Regions from separate parts of the Homo sapiens genome. Here region 2 is linked to region 1. The links come from fine-mapping of genetic effects on gene expression. A gene starts in region 1. The other region holds a variant in brackets. All regions are shown on one strand. Distances are from middle to middle.

Region 1 (8,452 bases):
GGGTGACAGGGTAGATGGTCAGGGATCAACCAACCGCAAACACAGAGGAGAAAGGGTTTGGTGGGGAGGCATGGTGGGGGGGTGGTAATGCAAGTGAGTTCAGTGTTGAACACATTGAGTTTAATGTAGCAAGGGACATCCAGGCAGCTGCAATACAATAAAATAAGAGAAAATACAAATCTGGAGGGAGAGCGAGGTTGGAATCAGAAGTCACTAACACAGGCATATGAAAAGGTGCTCAACATCACTGATCATCAGAGAAATGCAAATCAAAACTACACTGAGATATCATCTCACTCCAGTTAAAATGGCTTCTATCCAAGAGGCAGGCAATCACAAATACTGGCGAGAACGTGGAAAAAAGGCAACCCTTGTACACTGTTGGTAGGAATGGAAATTAGTAAAATCATAATGGAGAACAGTTTGGAGTTTCCTCAAAAGAGTAAAAATTGAACTACCATATGATCCAGTAATCCCACTGCTGGGTATATACCCCAAAGAAAGGAAATCAGTACATTGAAGGGATAACTGCACACCCATGTTTGTTGCAGCAGTGTTTACAGTAGCTAAGGTTTGGAAGCAACCTGAGTGTCTAACAACAGATGAATGGATAAAGCAAAAGTAGCACATAGACACAAGGGAGTACACAAAAAAGAATGAGGGCCAATGTTGTCTGTCTGCCAAGACAACAGAAACATGATCATTTGCAACAACGTGGATGGAACTGCAGATCATTACGTTAAGTGACATAAGCCAGGCACAGAGACAAACATCACATGTCCTCACTTACTTGTGGGATCTAAAAATCAAATCAATTGAACTCATGGACATACAAAGTAGAAGGATGGTTACCAGAGGCTGGGTAAAAAAAAAAAAAAAAAAAAAAAAAAAAAAAAAAAAAAAAATGAATAAGACCTACTATTTGATAGCACAATAGGGTGCCTATAGACAATAATAACTTCATTGTATATTTTACAATAACTTAAAGAATGTAATTGTATTGTTTGTAACTCAAAGGATAAATGCTTGAGGGGATGGATACCCCTTTCTCCAACGTGCTTATTTCATATTGCATGCCCGTATCAAAACATCTCATATACCCCATAAATATATACACCTATGTACCCACAAACATTTTATTTTATTTATTTATTTATTTTTGAGACGGAGACTCACTCTGTCGCCCAGGCTGGAGTGCAGTAGCGCGATCTCGGCACACTGCAAGCTCCGCCTCCCGGGTTCAAGAGAATTCTCCTGCCTCAGCCTCCTGAGTAGCTGGGATTACGTCACCATGCCCAGCTAATTTTTGTATTTTTAGTAGAGACGAGGTTTCACCATGTTGGTCAGGCTGGTCTCGAACTCCTGAGCTCATGATCCTCCTGCCTCGGCCTCCCAAAGTGCTGGGATTACAGGCATAAGCCACTGCGCCCGGCCCCACAAAAACTTTAAAAAATAATTTTAAAAAATTAACAAAAGAAGTCACTAACAATAAGAATGATAATTAATATCTACTGAACAGACTGTATCAGGCTCTGTTCTACACTCTGTACATGCACGGTCTATGAACTTATCTAATCTTCCTAACAACACTCTGATGTAGGCCGATTTTATTTCATTAATTTTTTTTGCCAGAGAACAGATTTAATACCTAATGAAGTAGGCCCCTTTTATTTTATATTTTATTTTATGTATTTATTTTTGAGATAGAGTCTCATTCTGTCACTCAGGCTGGAGTGCAGTGGCACGATCTCAGCTCACTGCAACCTCCACCTCCAGGGTTCAAGCGATTCTCCTGCTTCAGCCTCCTGAGTAGCTGGGATTACCGTTTCTCGCTCTGTTGGCCAGACTGGAGTGCAGTGGCGGGATCCCGGCTCACTGCAAGCTCCGCCTTCCGGTTTCACGCCATTCTCCTGCCTCAGCCACCAAGTAGCTGGGAGTACAGGAGCCCGCCACCACGCCCAGCTAATTTTTTTTTTATTTTTAGTGGAGACGGGGTTTCACCGTGTTAGCCAGGATGGTCTTGTTCTCCTGACCTTGTGATCCGCCCGCCTCGGCCTCCCAAAGTGCTGGGATTACAGGCGTGAGCCACCGCACCCGGCTGACCTAAAACTTTTAAAGCCTCACTCAGCCCCACTCAAGCTTGCTTTCTCTAGCATCTAGAACCTAGAAAAGATCAAAACAACCGCTTGCCCAGGGCAGCACTAATTGGCCGGGTCATCCGGTGGTTTTATTGCTCTGTAATAAGGTTACCTAAGTTCTTTCTTGAATTTTATTTTATTTTATTTATTTATTTATTTTTGAGACAAAGTTTCACTCTGTCGCCCAGGCTGGAGTGCAGTGGTGCAGTCTTGGCTCACTGCAACCTTCGCCTCCCTGGTTCAAACAATTCTCGTGCCTCAGCCTTCTGAGTAACTGGGATTACAGGCGACTGCCACCATGCCTGGCTAATTTTTGTCTTTTTAGTAGAGATGGGGTTTCGCCATGTTGGCCAGACTGGTCTCGAACTCCTGACCTCAGGTGATCCGCCTGCCTCGGCCTCCCAAAGTGCTGGGATTACAGGCTTGAGCCACTGCGCCCGGCCTTTACTTTAATCATTACGCACAAGGATTTCCATCTGCCTTTTTTTTTTTTTATTATTGGAGACAGAGTCTCACTCTGTTGCCAGGCTGGAGTGCAGTGGCGCAATCTCGGCTCACTGCAATCTCCGCCTCCCAGGTTCAAATGATTCCCCTGCCTCAGCCTCCCAAGTAGCTGGGACTACAGGCGCGCGCCACCATGCCTGGCTAATTTTTTGTATTTTAGTAGAGACAGGATTTCACCATTTTGGCCAGGATGGTCTCTATCTCCTGACCTCGTGATCTGCCTGCCTTGGCCTCCCAAAGTGCTGGGATTACAGGCGTGAGCCACCGTGTCCGGCCTCCTGTCTGCCTTTTATCTTACCCTATCACTAGTGGCTGCCTGAAGATCTCAGAACAGCATCTATAGGAGATGCGCATCCGATCCTAGGAAGGATTTCTGATGCTATTTTATCTTTAGGGACTTGTTACTGGGCTTCTGTCTGCCAAGACAACAGAAACGTGGCCTAGCAAACAATTCCTTTTGGTTGGAAGGCAGTCTCGCTAGGGGCATTTGAGGGCCTTGCCTAGGACATAGGACCAGCAGTATTTCACAGCTACTACAGAAAATACCCCAGACTTTGGCCCATAAGATCTCTTGTATTATACTGCAGATCTACCAATGGCACTCAGACCCAGAGGCAGATGCAATCTCCGGTTCGCGGGTTGGGAGCAGTTTTGTGGAACAAAGACACCGTCTAGTTCTGACATGGTACAGGGAGGAAACACACAGAGGTTAAGACTTAGACAAGAGGCCAGGCGCGGTGGCTCACGCCTGTAATCCCTGCACTTTGGGAGGCTGAGGCGGGAGGATCACTTGAGGTCGGGACTTCGAGACCAGCCTGACCAACATGAAGGAACCCCGTCTCTACTAAAAATACAAAATTAGGCCGGGCGCGGTGGCTCACGCCTGTAATCCCAGCACTTTGGGAGGCCGAGGCGGGTGGATCACGAGGTCAGGAGATCGAGACCATCCTGGCTAACACGGTGAAACACCGTCTCCACTAAAAAAAATACAAAAAATTATCCGGGCGTGGTGGTGGGCGCCTGTAGTCCCAGCTACTCCGGAGGCTTAGGCAGGAGAATGGCGTGAGCCCGGGAGGCGGAGCTTGCAGCGAGCCGAGATCGAGCCACTGCACTCCAGCCTGGGCGACAGAGCGAGACTACGTCTAAAAAACAAAACAAAACAAAATTAGCCTGGCGTGGTGGCGCCCGCCTGTAATCCAGTTACTCGGGAAGTTGAGGCAGGAGAATCGCTTGAACCCGGGAGGCGGAGGTTGCGGTGAGCCGAGATCGCGCCATTGCATTGCACTCCAGCCTGGGCGACAAGAGCGAAACTTCGTCTCAAAAAACAAAACAAAACAAAACAAAACAAAACAAACTTAAGCAAGGCCAGGTGCCTGGGTCGAGGCAGAGCTGAGGCTTATCCGGGCATCCTCTCACTTAGCAGTCTTTCTTCCACAACACACTGATCCCCGTGTTTGGCGTATTGTGGAGAGTTGCAGGGCATTCCTTTCCCTGGACATAAATTTCCACGTCTACCGGTGACATCAAGTCACAAGAGGCCAGAACGCGGTTTTCAAGTCAGAATCTTAGCCAGAAACGAAGTTGGCCTCTTGCCAAGGAGCCAAATAACTGGATGGACGCTCGCACCCGCTTCGCAGACAGGCGCACGCAGTGGAGAGGTGAAGTGATTTCTGCGTTTGGGTAGAGCGGCGTCGGCTTTAGGTGTCCACGGTGCGGAAGCCAGCCGTTTTCCAAAATGCAATACCTCTAATGGTCCCTCACGAACAGCAGTCCCCAAATACAGCCGCTCTTGGACCTCGACGAAGGGGATGCCACTAACGCTGTGGGGAGAGCGCACGGTCCCCGCCGGCGCAGGGAGCCGGGGGTAGAGCAGAGGGCGTCGCGTCCCCATCCCAGCCCCAGCGCGGGGGCTGGAGCAGTCGAGAGGGCGGCCTCCCGCCGCCTAGAGGCGCCGGTCCGCTCGTCCGCTCTGCCTGTGCCCCGTCTCTATGGCGGCCCCAACGGCCGTCCAGGACGTGGAGCGAAATGAGCTCGGGCGCTGACGGCGGCGGTGGCGCTGCGGTGGCGGCGCGGTCGGACAAGGGCAGTCCCGGGGAGGACGGTTTCGTCCCGTCGGCGCTGGGGACCCGCGAGCAGTGAGTGTGACGCTGGGCAGGGGAGGATGAGCCGTGCCGCCCTGCCTGGGCCCCGAGAAGGGGACGGCGGGGTGGAGACCCGGGGCTCAGGGACAGGGAGACCCTCGGGGGCGTGACGGGAGCAGGGCCACCTGGCGGGGGGCTTACGGGGATTTCAAAGAGTGGAATCCCTAGGGGTCGCCCTACGCGGTTAACCGACGTTTCAAGGGATTGGAGCCCAAGGGGCTTGTGGGTGCGGGACAGGCTTTGGCTCCTGGGAGGCCTTTTGGGAGTCTCGAACCTGAGGGCCAGGCTTGGGGGAAAGGGGGAGAGGGCGAGGCTGGCGAATAGGGCTGGTCGGCGAGAGTGAGAGACCGAGGGAGAAGTGCTGGGCCTGGGAGCCGAAAAGGCTGAGTAGGAGGGGAGGGATGTGGGAGCTGGAAGTGGGGTGGGAATAGCGGATGACCCGAGGCGGGAGCGGGGAGATAGTGGGGGATCTTGGGGTGAAAGAAAGCGATCTGACCTCAAACAGACGCTCAGGAATTATTAAATGAATTAATGTGGGTGGATGAATGGCTGCAGGGAACAGTTGGGGAGAGGTAAATTGGCGGGATGAGAGGGAGCAGGGATTCTAGAGAATCATTGTAGGAAAAGAGACGGCAAATGAAAAGGATTCAGAGGGCCGGGTGCGTGGTGGCTTACGCCTGTAATCCCAGCACTTTGGGAGGCCGAGGCGGGCGGAGCACAAGGTCAGGAGATCGAGACCAGCCTGACCAACATGGTGAAACCCCGTCTCTACTAAAAATACAAAAATTAGCGGGGTGTGGTGGCGCACACCTGTAGTCCCAGCTACTCGGGAGGCTGAGGCAGGAGAATCGCTTGAACCCGGGAGGCGGAGGTTGCAGTGAGCCGAGATCGCGCCACTGCACTCCAGCCTGGTGACAGAGCGTGACTCCGTCTCAAAAAAAGAAGAAAAGCGTCCAGAGAAAATTTAAACGGAGGGCTAGAAGACTGGAATAGGCAGAGACAAATAGCACAGGAAAGAGACTGTGTGCCTGCACACTTGAGACCAGATGTGCTTGTTTCATCAAGTTTTGAACTTGGGTCAGGGACTTAGGGATACGTGGACAAATGTCTTTGTGTTTTTTTAGGCTAAAACTTATTGTTGTGCATCAGATATTGTCCTAAATGCTTTACATGTACAGTATAAACGTATTCTGCTTGCCCATGTATTTCCTTCTTTTAACTCAAGGACGTTAAAAGATTGAACTATGTGTATTTATTAATAACACTAGTGATGTTTAAACCTCTGTCATAAATAGCTCTGTAATGTATTAGAAACATACATTTAATTCATAATACAGTTTAATTCAAGAGTCTTGCTTTGCATTTCATTGTTTACATAGTTGGGATGCTGTCTATGAGAGAGAACTGCAAACTTTCCGAGAATATGGAGATACAGGTGAAATCTGGTGAGTTAGGAAAAGAATCAAGTTATAATCTAGAAGATTATATGTATATGTGTGTGTGTTTAAAAAAATACGTATATATTCGCCGGGCGCGGTGGCTTACGCCTGTAATCCCAGCACTTTGGGAGGCCGAGGCAGGCAGATCACGAGGTCAGGAGATAGAGACCATCCTGGCCGACATGGTGAAACCCTGTCTCTACGAAAATTAGACAAAAAATTAGCCAGGCATGGTGGCGCGCGCCTGTAGTCCCAGCTACTTGGGAGGCCGAGGCAGGGGAATCATTTGAACCTGGGAGGCGGAGATTGCAGTGAGCTGAGATCGCGCCACTGCACTCCATCCTGGGCGACAGAGTGAGACTCCATCTCAAAAAAAAAAATGCATATATTCAAGTGCTTATACCCAAAGAAAGCCTAAAAATCCTGGGAACCCTGGATTAAGTCTGGCTTTAGTGGGTAGATTTAAAGTATGTCTCTTCTTTTATTCTTTTTTAATTTTTTACTTTTTTTTTTTTTTTAGAGAGGTGGGGTGTCATTCTGTCATCCAGGCTGGAGTACAGTGGCATGATCATCATAACTCGTTACATCCTGGACCTCCTGGGCCCAGGTGATCCTCCCGCCACAGCCTCCTGGGTAGCTGGGACTATAGCTGCATGCCATCATGCCCAGCAAATTTTCTTTTTTGTAGAGACAGGGTCTCACTGTGTTACCCAGGGTGGTCTCGAACTCCTGGCCTCAAGCAGTCCTCCCACCGTGGCCTTCCAAAGTGTTGGGAGAATGGGTGTGAGCCCTCTTTTAATATCTCACATTTACGTTTGATGACAGCATTTCACCCTATAGTTGTCCTTTGTCAATAAACAATAAAATTCTGAGACACCAACACATACAACTGTTAATGCTGATATAGAGAAATGTTAGTAAATAACATACTGACCTTGTCTATTCTGTTGTATTCCTGGAGGTGGTTTCTCCTAAATTACAGTAGAGACAAAGCTGAAGCAGTCACAGATGTTTTCACTTTCAAATAAGAGTTTGAGCATATGGTATAAATAGCTTAAATGGAATATAGTGGTGACTTTTGCTCTGTATCCCTCAGTTATTTGACTGATTCTCTCTAACAGGTTTGGAGAAGAGAGTATGAATCGACTAATAAGGTGGATGCAGAAACACAAGATTCCACTGGATGCTTCAGTGCTTGATATTGGAACTGGAAATGGTGTTTTCCTGGTTGAACTTGTTGGTACTTTTAGTATTTGTTTGTTAAAGACAAATTTTAAAAGGAAAATTTTTAAAGGCCCTGCAATTGAGGATATTAACCATCTAAATATAAAATAGTAAAGCAGTCATACTTGGAGAAGTCAGATAGTACAAAAGGGAGGCTACATGGATTGTGAGAGAACCTAGGCAATCTGAGTCCTAGTCTTGACTCTTTTGGCTATAGTCTTAACCTTGAGTAAGCCACTTAATTTTTCTAGGCTTCTGTTCTTTCCTAAGGGTTGTGACTAGGTGATTGCTATTGGTTTCTTGTAGCTCAAAACTCTAGAAATGCATATATATATATATATATAAAGATGACCTTTTGCAATTCCAGTAGGACATACGTATCTTATCTTATAGGTAAGCATATGGTTTGAAAAGTGCATTTTGTCCATGGAACTGTGTTTCGGTAAACATTCCACTGCTAGCTAAACCATCACTGTTGTATGCCTGCAGTGTGCTCTTGCTATGCTGTGTGCTGTGGAGGAATTATAAGACTTAGGCTTCATCCTAGATAATTTTACAGTCTTAATTAGTACAGAAATAAACATAAGAGTGAAATTTGTTAAGTAACCACCACATGCCAAGCCTCATGTTTGGCATTGGCAACAGGAAAATTTAGACTTTGTGCTTGAATTGTTTACATTACAATAGAGTATGGACTGACATATGGACAGTTGTGCCATCACTTGATGCATGCAGTAATACACTGAATATAGAAAAGAGGGTGATTAATTTTGGAGTGGAGGGGTAGGGAAGCATCTTGGAGGAGTAAATATCCAAGTTGGGTGGAAATTTCAGGGACAGTTTGGTGACCTAGTGGCGTGTAAAGAGGGAGAAGATTTCAACTAATGGAAATATTATCTAAAGGCCTGAAGGCTGAAGCAGTATTTTATGTTCTGGGCCTGTAAATAATTTGATAAATTGAAATACAAAGTATACGTGGGGATGGACAGACATGAGGATTAAGTTA
Region 2 (8,452 bases), 260 kb before region 1:
CCTTCAATATTTACCTACATGCTCTTTTTCTCTGAGAGCTCAGACTTAATCGTAGCTGCAGTTCAAGGACCACTTTTAAGAAAAAGCAAGAAGGTCTGTTTACCCAGTGAATTACCATTCAGAGGGGGGTCTAGGAGGCTGCATTCTTAATGTGGGGCCCAGGCTCTGATAGATCTTTTTAATGTTCCCCAGATTTATGGGTGTGCGTGAGTCAGAGTGGAGACCCCAGGGTGCCTGAGTTAACTCTGTGCATGTTGAGCGTAGCCCTGGAATTTATTTTAAGCATCTGGGGTAAGTGAACATAACAGCAGACTTTCCGTTCCTTCAGCTTGTACGCATTGCTGTTGTGAGGAGAATAGCGTTTACCCCAAGAGTTTACAGAAGTGGATATATCACAGACCTCATGTCAGTCTGGGCAGCGGAGGATTTAGAGGGTTTCGCTTGTTTTTTGTTAGTGTTCTCTGTCCTGTAGGTAGTATAAACTAGACGCCATGCATTACAAATGTATTACTGTTTTTATCTTTTCTGTTGAACTGTACTGTGTCAGTGACCATAGTCAGTGTGATAGTTTGTGTAAAGGGTTGTATTAGTTATCTATTGCTGTGTGACAAATTACCTCAAAATGTAAAGGCTTAAAACAACAAAACTTTATTGTCTTGCACTGTCTATGGGACAGGAACCTGCACAGCTTAGCTTGGTGCCTCCTGCTAGGGCCCTGACAATGTTGCATTCAGGATGTCAGTGGGGTTGTGGTCTCATCTGAAGGCCCGGCTCGGGGAGGGTTCAGCTTCTCATGGACTGTTGGGACTGAGGGCCTTGGTTTCCTGTTCCGTGGGTCTCTCCTTAGGGCAGCTGGCATGGCAGCTGGCCTCTGGGAGGGAGGGAAGTTGGCAGGGAAGATGGGAGGATGCCCACACTGGTAGCCACAGTCTCTTTTAACCTAATCTCAGAAGTGACATCCCCTCACCTGTGTATACTGTTTACTGTTTGTTTAGAAGCAGAGCTTGTACAAGGACATGAATTCCAAAAGGTTGGGGGTCCCCGGGGGCCATGGGATTGATTCTTTTTCTGGCATCCACAGTGTAGATGGGATCTGCCTTATTCAGGGAGAGGGTCATGTTCAGCTTGGAAAGCTCTCAGTGGGCCTCTGGGGAGGGGCAGTGATTCAGAAAAGCCTCCATGGCCCTCAATTCATGGCCCTCTACTGTTTTGTGGGCACGCCTGTGTCACCGGTGGGTGGCTGTGCAGAGCTATCCGGCTTCGGATTCCCCAGAAGTCCTGTAGGGGCTGGAAAGGTCACTGAGATAATGTGTGTGCAACCTCAGTGAGGGTCCCTGTGTGGAATCTGATCCTCTGCCGGGTCCCTGGTTTCTTGTGGAGCTGGGCATGAAGGGCAGTCTGTGGCCAGTGCCCTGCCCTTCGGAACTATGTGGCATCTCTCCTTTTCCAAGTGAAGTTCCCATTTCCCTTCCTGTCTTCCCACTCATCAGACCCGTCTACACCTTCGGCTCTGGGCTGAGATCTCCCCTCCCATCTTCAGGAGCGTGTCTGAGATGTTCACCCCGGCATCATCTGAAGTGCTGTCTCTGAAGCCCAGAGGGTCTAACCTCAGACCTTCCAAAAACCAAAACCTATTAGCCTCACCCCTTCTCTGCCTCTCTTGAGCTGAGCCTGTTGATTTCCCAAGGGCCTTGGGAGTGGAGCAGGCTGAGCCCAGGAGCCACTCATCCCTGGGTGTCCTCCCTGGGAGAACCTCTGGGAGGGGCCTGGAGAGGACAGAGGGCCTTCCTTGCACTGCTGTGTTGGGGGATGCCAGGAGGGGCTGCAAGAATCTGGACTGCAAAAGACCTTTCACTGTGTCCTCTTGCTCTCTGTTCGGCGGGCAGTGAGGTTGCCATTCAAAAGATAGAGTGGCGGGTCATTTTCAGTGGGCTCCTCCTGCTCCCATGTCCTTTGTGTTGACAATGCACTGGATCCTTCCTGGAGGTGAGGGAGCCCCGGCCCTCCAGAGATGAACCCCCAGTCGTACTCCAGAAACCTGGGAGAATGCTGCACCTGCCCTGAGGGGCAGCCTTGGCTTCGGTGGCCCCGTGGATTCATGCTTGAATTATCCTGGAAGTTGTGTGGGGTTTTGTTTTCTTTTTTTTTCTCTCTCTTCGAATAAGCCTTTTGTACTCCTAAAGTTCTGTGTTTTGAAGAAATAAGTACACTTGGGGTCAGCGGCTGCATGCTGCGTGATGCGTATTCATAAACTTCATTCTGGGGGAAGAATTTGAGAATGGACCGGAGAGAATGCTTTGACAGTCAGAAAAGTTTTTCTCAAAATTTCCCATGAACTTGGGAAGTGTGGAGATGCACGTGGCTGTCCCAAAGCCATATGAATGGAGTTGATCCAAGCGCCCAATTCCAGCCTGAGATCCAGTGGGCGCTCCGTCTGGGCTCCCATGGGAATGTGTTGGGGCTGCCGCCAAGCAGGAACCGATGGTGCCTGTGATTGTGGACCCCAGATTCCTGCTGGAGCCCACACTATGATACACAAAGCCCGGACTGAGGCATTCAAAGGCACAATCACCATCCGTTTGCTGCTGGACCCCAAGGGCGTTCTTGATAGGTTCTTCCCTCCTCTGTGGGCCGTGTGGGGATCACCTTTCTTTGATCTCCCAACCCTGGCATGAGGCTGATGGAATCTTCTGGGTGTTGTTAACACAGACAACACAAAGGCAGGACGGTCCAAACAATGAAATCCCAGACATGGAGCACAGAAAACAGCTTAAGGGAAATAAGGTTAGAACATTCCCTCCTGGGTCTCTCCCCTGGCGAACACAGGTCTGAGCCTCTCAGGAGGCTGCTCCCTGCGTGTTGTGGGGGTCAGCTCTGGGACCTGCAGCCCCTCTGACCACTGCTGGGAAATGGCCACGGGCACACCTCAGGCCGTGCGTGTTGAGCTGTCTGGGGCGAGATTGGAGGGTGAAGGTTGCCTCTCCCCATAAAGCAGGCTTGGGTTGACTTGGAGCTTTTTAATAAAGCCAGGATTCTGCACAGATTGCTGCCCCTGCATCACAACCAGGCTTCCTGCCGGGGGGTCCTGAGCTTGCAGGTCTCAGCAGCGCAGACCCCCACCGATAGGTGCGAGCCTCCCGTCTGTTGGCATGTGTTGGCGTGCTCGGGTTGCTGAAAGAAGGTTCCACAGACAGGCCAGGACAGAGATGTGTTTTCTCAGAGTTCTAGAGGCTGGAAGTCTGAGATAAGGCATCCGCAGGGGTGCTTCCTTCCAAGGATTTGAGAGAAGCCCTGTCTCCGTAGCTTTTAGATGCCATCTTCACGTCGTCTTCCCCCTGTCTGTGTCTAAGTGTCCAACTGTCCTCCTTTTTATGAGAATATTCGTCTTGGATTAGAGTCCACTCTAATGACCTGTTTAATTTGATTGCCGCTGTAACGACCTTATCTTCAAATAAGGTTCCATTCTGAGGTCCTGGGGCTTAGAACTTTAACATAATTAGGGGGGTCCATAATTCAACCTGTAACAGTCAGTGTGTGACCTGTGGGCATTTAATTGAAAAGGTTTCTTTTTTTTTTTTTTGGTTGGTTGGTTTCTATTTTGAGACAGAGTCTCACTCTGTTGCCCAGGCTAGTGTGCAGTGGCGTGATCTCAGTTCACTGCAAGCTCTGTCCCCTGGGTTCAAGCAATTCTCCTGCCTCAGCCTCCTGAGTAGCTGGGATTACAGGTGCCCACCACCACACCTGGCTAATTTTTGTATTTTTAGTAGAGATGGGGTTTTGCCATGTTGGCCAGGCTTGTCTCAAACTCCTGACCTCAAGTGATCCACCCACCTTGGCCTCCCAAAGTGCTGGGATTACAGGCGTGAGCCACCATGCCTGGCCTGAAAAGGTATTTTAATTGCTTTGGGGACTTAATTGACATCAAGACCATAAATGTTCAGGCTTGGATGACTATGGCAGGAAGTACATGAGGAGTGGGCCTCCAGGGACCTGCCTTTCCCTAAGGGTCTCCATGTACCGTTTTCGAATGGTGTCTGGGGTGGGGACATAAACTTGGGATCCAGGTATCCTGAGTCCTCGGACCTTTTTTCCCATTTATTTGTCTGGCTTGGGCTCTAACATGCACAATATCCCCATAAAATGTCTCAGAGCAGATTTTTAAATGGCCATTACCTTGTCAAGAATTCTCCAGTGGGATTTCATGTAAAATTAGGATCCCTGATGGTAGCTCACGATGAGCTGTAATTCTCCACATAGGTGACTGTATTCATGGGCACCATCCACCCTCCTCATCCAGATGTCTCCCTCTCCAGAGGACTTTGGTGCAGGAGGCCTGTGAGGACCCCAGTTCATTATGACAAGGTTGCAGTTCTCTAGAAGATTCTCATCAGGAGCCTTGTCTACTCCTCCCCAGCAACCTCTTTCCACTAACTTATATTTTAGCTATAGCCTGGAACATTCTGAGCTATGATGAGTGTTAAAATGGGGTGGTGTACTCGTCAGAGACCTGGAGACCGGGACTGGAAGCCACTGTGAAACAGGTGAAATGATTCAAGAAGACAGCTGAACCCCAGCGACACCCCATAACAGAAACAAAAGAACTCTTGTGAGCCGCACCCCCACCCTTCCTTTTCCCGGCATTTGATAGGCAAAGATGAATTTGTGTGACACGGGAGTGTCCCACCCTCCTCCTCCCCATCAGACTCTGCGAGACGCCCGCTCTCCCTTTGGGTGCAGTCATGGATACCAAACAAAGCCTTCATCCCTCTGGGTTTCCGT[T/C]ACGTAGCCGTCTTCCACGTGAAAACCGTGTTAAGCAAAATGAATAGCTGCAAGCTATTTTATTTCATGTTAAATAACTGTGGATAAGACTAAGATTTTTCTCTTTATGACTCAGGTTGAAAAGATAAGGTCTGGGAAGCGGTGTCTTTGAATCTAGAGATTTTCTGGAGTTAGGGATGTCTGATTTCTACATATCATTTCCACGACCTGTCGCAGGAGACAGGGTACCGGTGCCCCATGATGCTGCAGAGCGGCTTTTGGTGATAGAGACGCATTATGGAATGTGTATACTTGTAAGGACCCAGGCATAGAGTATCTGCCCTCATAAAGCAAACATAATCCTCCACTCCTGAGGTCTGAGTTGGCTCTCCTGGATGCCAGCCTTTGCATGATGAGTGATGCCTTAGTTGAAATGAAGGATGGGCCACCCCAGGTGCCTGGAGCACTTTTATCCCAGTGCATGCCCAAACTACTGGTGTCCTAAACAGTTGGCCCCACAGACGTGGGGTTTGGGGAGCTGAGCTGTGCACTGGGGCGGTGGCTACACTGGCCTGGTCACGTCAGGCTGGGCAGAAGAGTTGGAGCGGGGTGGCTCAAGAGTCTTGATTTGGTTTGACTCTATAACTTGGCTGGCATGGAACTTGGAAGGCTGGGTCCCCACTCCTTCAGCAGGTGGGCCCCTTTGGAGGGAGCCGTTCCTGCTTGTTTTTGAGATAATCTCTCCGGACACTTGGCAGCCCAGCCAGCGTTTGCTTTGATAGCTTATCTCTGCCCGTCCAGCTTGAACTCCCCTTTCCCACCATCTTCGACCATGCCTGCGGGTCTCCACCTCTCCCTGGCCACCATGTAGCCCTCATTCCTTGCTGAAGGTTCCACACTGAAGTGGGTTGTACAGAGGAACCTCGTCCTGGAAAGTGAAAGCAAGTCCCACTGAATGTGACTTGGAGCAAGCTTGTGAGGTATTCGTGGCATCAGAGCCATGAAGAGAAGGTGGAGAGGCGCTGCCTGGGGGAGGTGGCACCGGAGCTCAGGTGGGGGCTCCCCAGGATCCGCACGTGTGTGGGGTCTATCCAAAGGCATCCTCTGCCAAATCAGGCCAAGCATGTGCTGTATCACTCAGTGGTATCCTGCTGCTGTGACAACTGTGGCGACTTTGAAATGATGGTAAGAAAGAGTGTCCTGTGACGGTGGGGACTGAATTAGGCACATCTGTCTCCCGTAGTGGGGCATTAGTGGGCTACACCAGCCCCTCCCATTCTTCTCCAACCAGAAACTGTCAGGTACCCTGCCAGTGTGGAGAAGAGGTGGCCAGCATCTTAGAACTTGGTGAAAGGGGTGTTGTGTGTGTATGTGTGTGGTCAGGTGGACGTGTGTGTGTGTGTGTGTGTGTGTGTGTGTGTGTGTGTGTGTGTGTCTGTGGTCAGGCGGGCAAATTGAGGCCAGAGAGCACATTAATGTGCATTCTGGCCAGAATCAATTCCTGGGGAAAGTTGGAAAAATCTCCTTTCCTTTCTAAATTAGTGTCTACCAGGAAAAAAAGTTGTATATCTTAAGATCATACTTGTCTCACAGCAAACTGATCCTGGTGTTGAGTCAAATTGAGCCTGTTGATCAGGTGTGCATAGTGCTCCAGAGGCTGTCATTTGTAATGGAAAGCCTAAGGGGCATTTGCGGAGCAGCCCAGCCGGCCCCTCCCCAGCACCGTCCTCTCTGTGTGTGTTCCGTCTCTGCCAAGTTGTTTCCAATTTTCAACACTAACTGGTTGCTGTCAGCAGACGTAATGGAAAAATCATTTGTCAGGGTGGCCCCTGGCTCCCTGGGGTCGGGGACTCCACACCCTGGGCAGGGAGCCTCCCTCCTTCTTGGCCTGTACCTCCAGTCACTCCGCTGTGAAAGTGGGACCCCCAGCTAGCGTCTCGGGAGATAAACAAGTAGGCGCTGGCGCTGCATCCCCTTTCCCCTGGCATATCATGCTCCTAGAAACGAAGCATCTGCTGCTGGAACGGTGAGACCTTCTGCCTCTTTCACATCTGGAACTTTCGGGGAAATGCAGCATCTCATCCATGGGCCCAGGCCTTCCCTTCTAGGAGTAGCTGATCTTATTTTCTCCAGGTGCTTGTAGAGCTTAAGTTGGGATAGAAATGAGGATGGTGGCTCATGGCTGTCTCTGCAGCCTCTGGAAGGCCATGCAGGGTGTGCAGTGCCCTCTGCTGGCCAAAGGGCCCCATCGCTGGACACCAGGCCTCCCTTGGGCTGGGCCAGCTCCCAGGAAGGGCTGCAACAGGAAAAGGTCAGCCCACGTGGGGGTTTCCATTGGTTTTGAGAGCAAGCAGAGACTGCAGAGAGCATGTCCTTATACAAGCATTCTGGACCCTACGGTGTCAAGAGATGAGTGGGCTGGGATCTCAGAAGGCCAGTTGGGTTCCCCTAAGGACAGTAGAGGCCCCATAAAATCAGTCGAGGATTCCAGGCCTCTCTGAGGCAAAATTCAAAGGCAAACATCTTAAAAATCTAACCTGAAGATTTTTTTTACAAATTCATATCTCATCATTGCAATTTGTTTGATAAGTAGCTAATTCCTATAATTGCCTTTATTTGATATTTAAATACAAGGGCAATTCATGTGTTAAGTGTAAGCTAAATAATTAAAAGTTAGGAGGATTAAATCTTCCCCCATTTCATATATTAAGACAGCAATGTTTAACATTATCTCATTAATAATTTATTATATACTATATGATACATATAACACAGTGTTCTATAATATGGTTACAATTGACAGTTGAATACATAGTCTAATAAATTGTATTAAGTTTTGCATAGGTTTAGCATATAACCTCCAGATATTTCTCTCCAAGAAGTGTAGCTTGGTGGCTCTTGCCTTTGCAAGTCCTCAAGTTCAAAACCCTTAGTGGCCATCAGTCCCCTGTGCTTTTACACCATGCTGGACACAGCAGATGTATTGTGTGTGCCCAATTGTATTGTGTGTGCCCAGTTTCTCTGCATGACGTTCAGATATAAACATTCTGGAATCATTTCTTGCACACTGTATGTAACAAAAGATGAGTTTTCTGGTGGAACCACTTCTGTCTGCCTAAAATTTGAGATCACTAATTTTTTTTATCTGTTCAACCAGTCTTCTCGGCTACAGATCAAAATTTTCATGCCAGAGTAGGAAAGAGAAAACTAGAAAAGGAAAAATTGATCTGCATTCCTGATTCCTCAAGTCTAAACAGACAGGAATAAGAGGTGTCATTTAGTTTGTTTGCTTATTTGCTTTTATCCCTTTTTTTTTGCTTAACCTTTATTATTAAATAACACTATTAAAACTAATATACAGTTTATTTTTAAGGCATATTTGGAAGACAAGTTCTTTTAAACTGTGTGAAAATCCTAAACACAAGAATGGCTCATTTTCTTTAGCAACAAAGACCAACACTTAATTTCCATTATGACACAAATCAAACAACCAATTAGGAAAATCACAAATTCTTTCTGCTCAAGTCTTCTGTTCTTGATTATAGCTTTTAGCAAGTGAAAATATTTAGAATTTTGGAGTCTTGCATTTAACACGAGGAAATGTATTTTCGTGTGCTAACAACCCTTAACCAAAACGGGAGGATTTACTCAGCTTTGTTGGCCAAGGGAAAGCCTGGTTTTTAGATTTGCTCAC

The links. PIP is the estimated chance that this variant, and not a neighbour inherited with it, causes the effect.
Region 2: its variant is fine-mapped to the expression of EEF1AKMT2 in hippocampus (GTEx, PIP above 0.99).

Annotation. Positions count from the first base shown.
Region 1 is chr10:124,788,049-124,796,500 of GRCh38, reverse strand. It overlaps EEF1AKMT2 (EEF1A lysine methyltransferase 2), which reads left to right and starts at 4,614. Exons shown (of 7, transcript NM_212554.4): 1 at 4,614-4,777; 2 at 6,163-6,228; 3 at 7,344-7,458. The coding sequence starts at 4,668. RefSeq lists enhancers at 3,215-3,937, 4,001-4,310, 3,938-4,662 and a silencer at 4,441-4,500.
Region 2 is chr10:125,046,788-125,055,239 of GRCh38, reverse strand. All of the region lies in intron 2 of CTBP2 (C-terminal binding protein 2), which reads left to right. Among named protein-coding and RNA genes, the nearest start is that of MIR4296, 18 kb to the right of the region's middle. RefSeq lists enhancers at 2,712-3,468, 6,667-7,250. The variant T/C (reference allele first, on the strand shown) is at 4,780.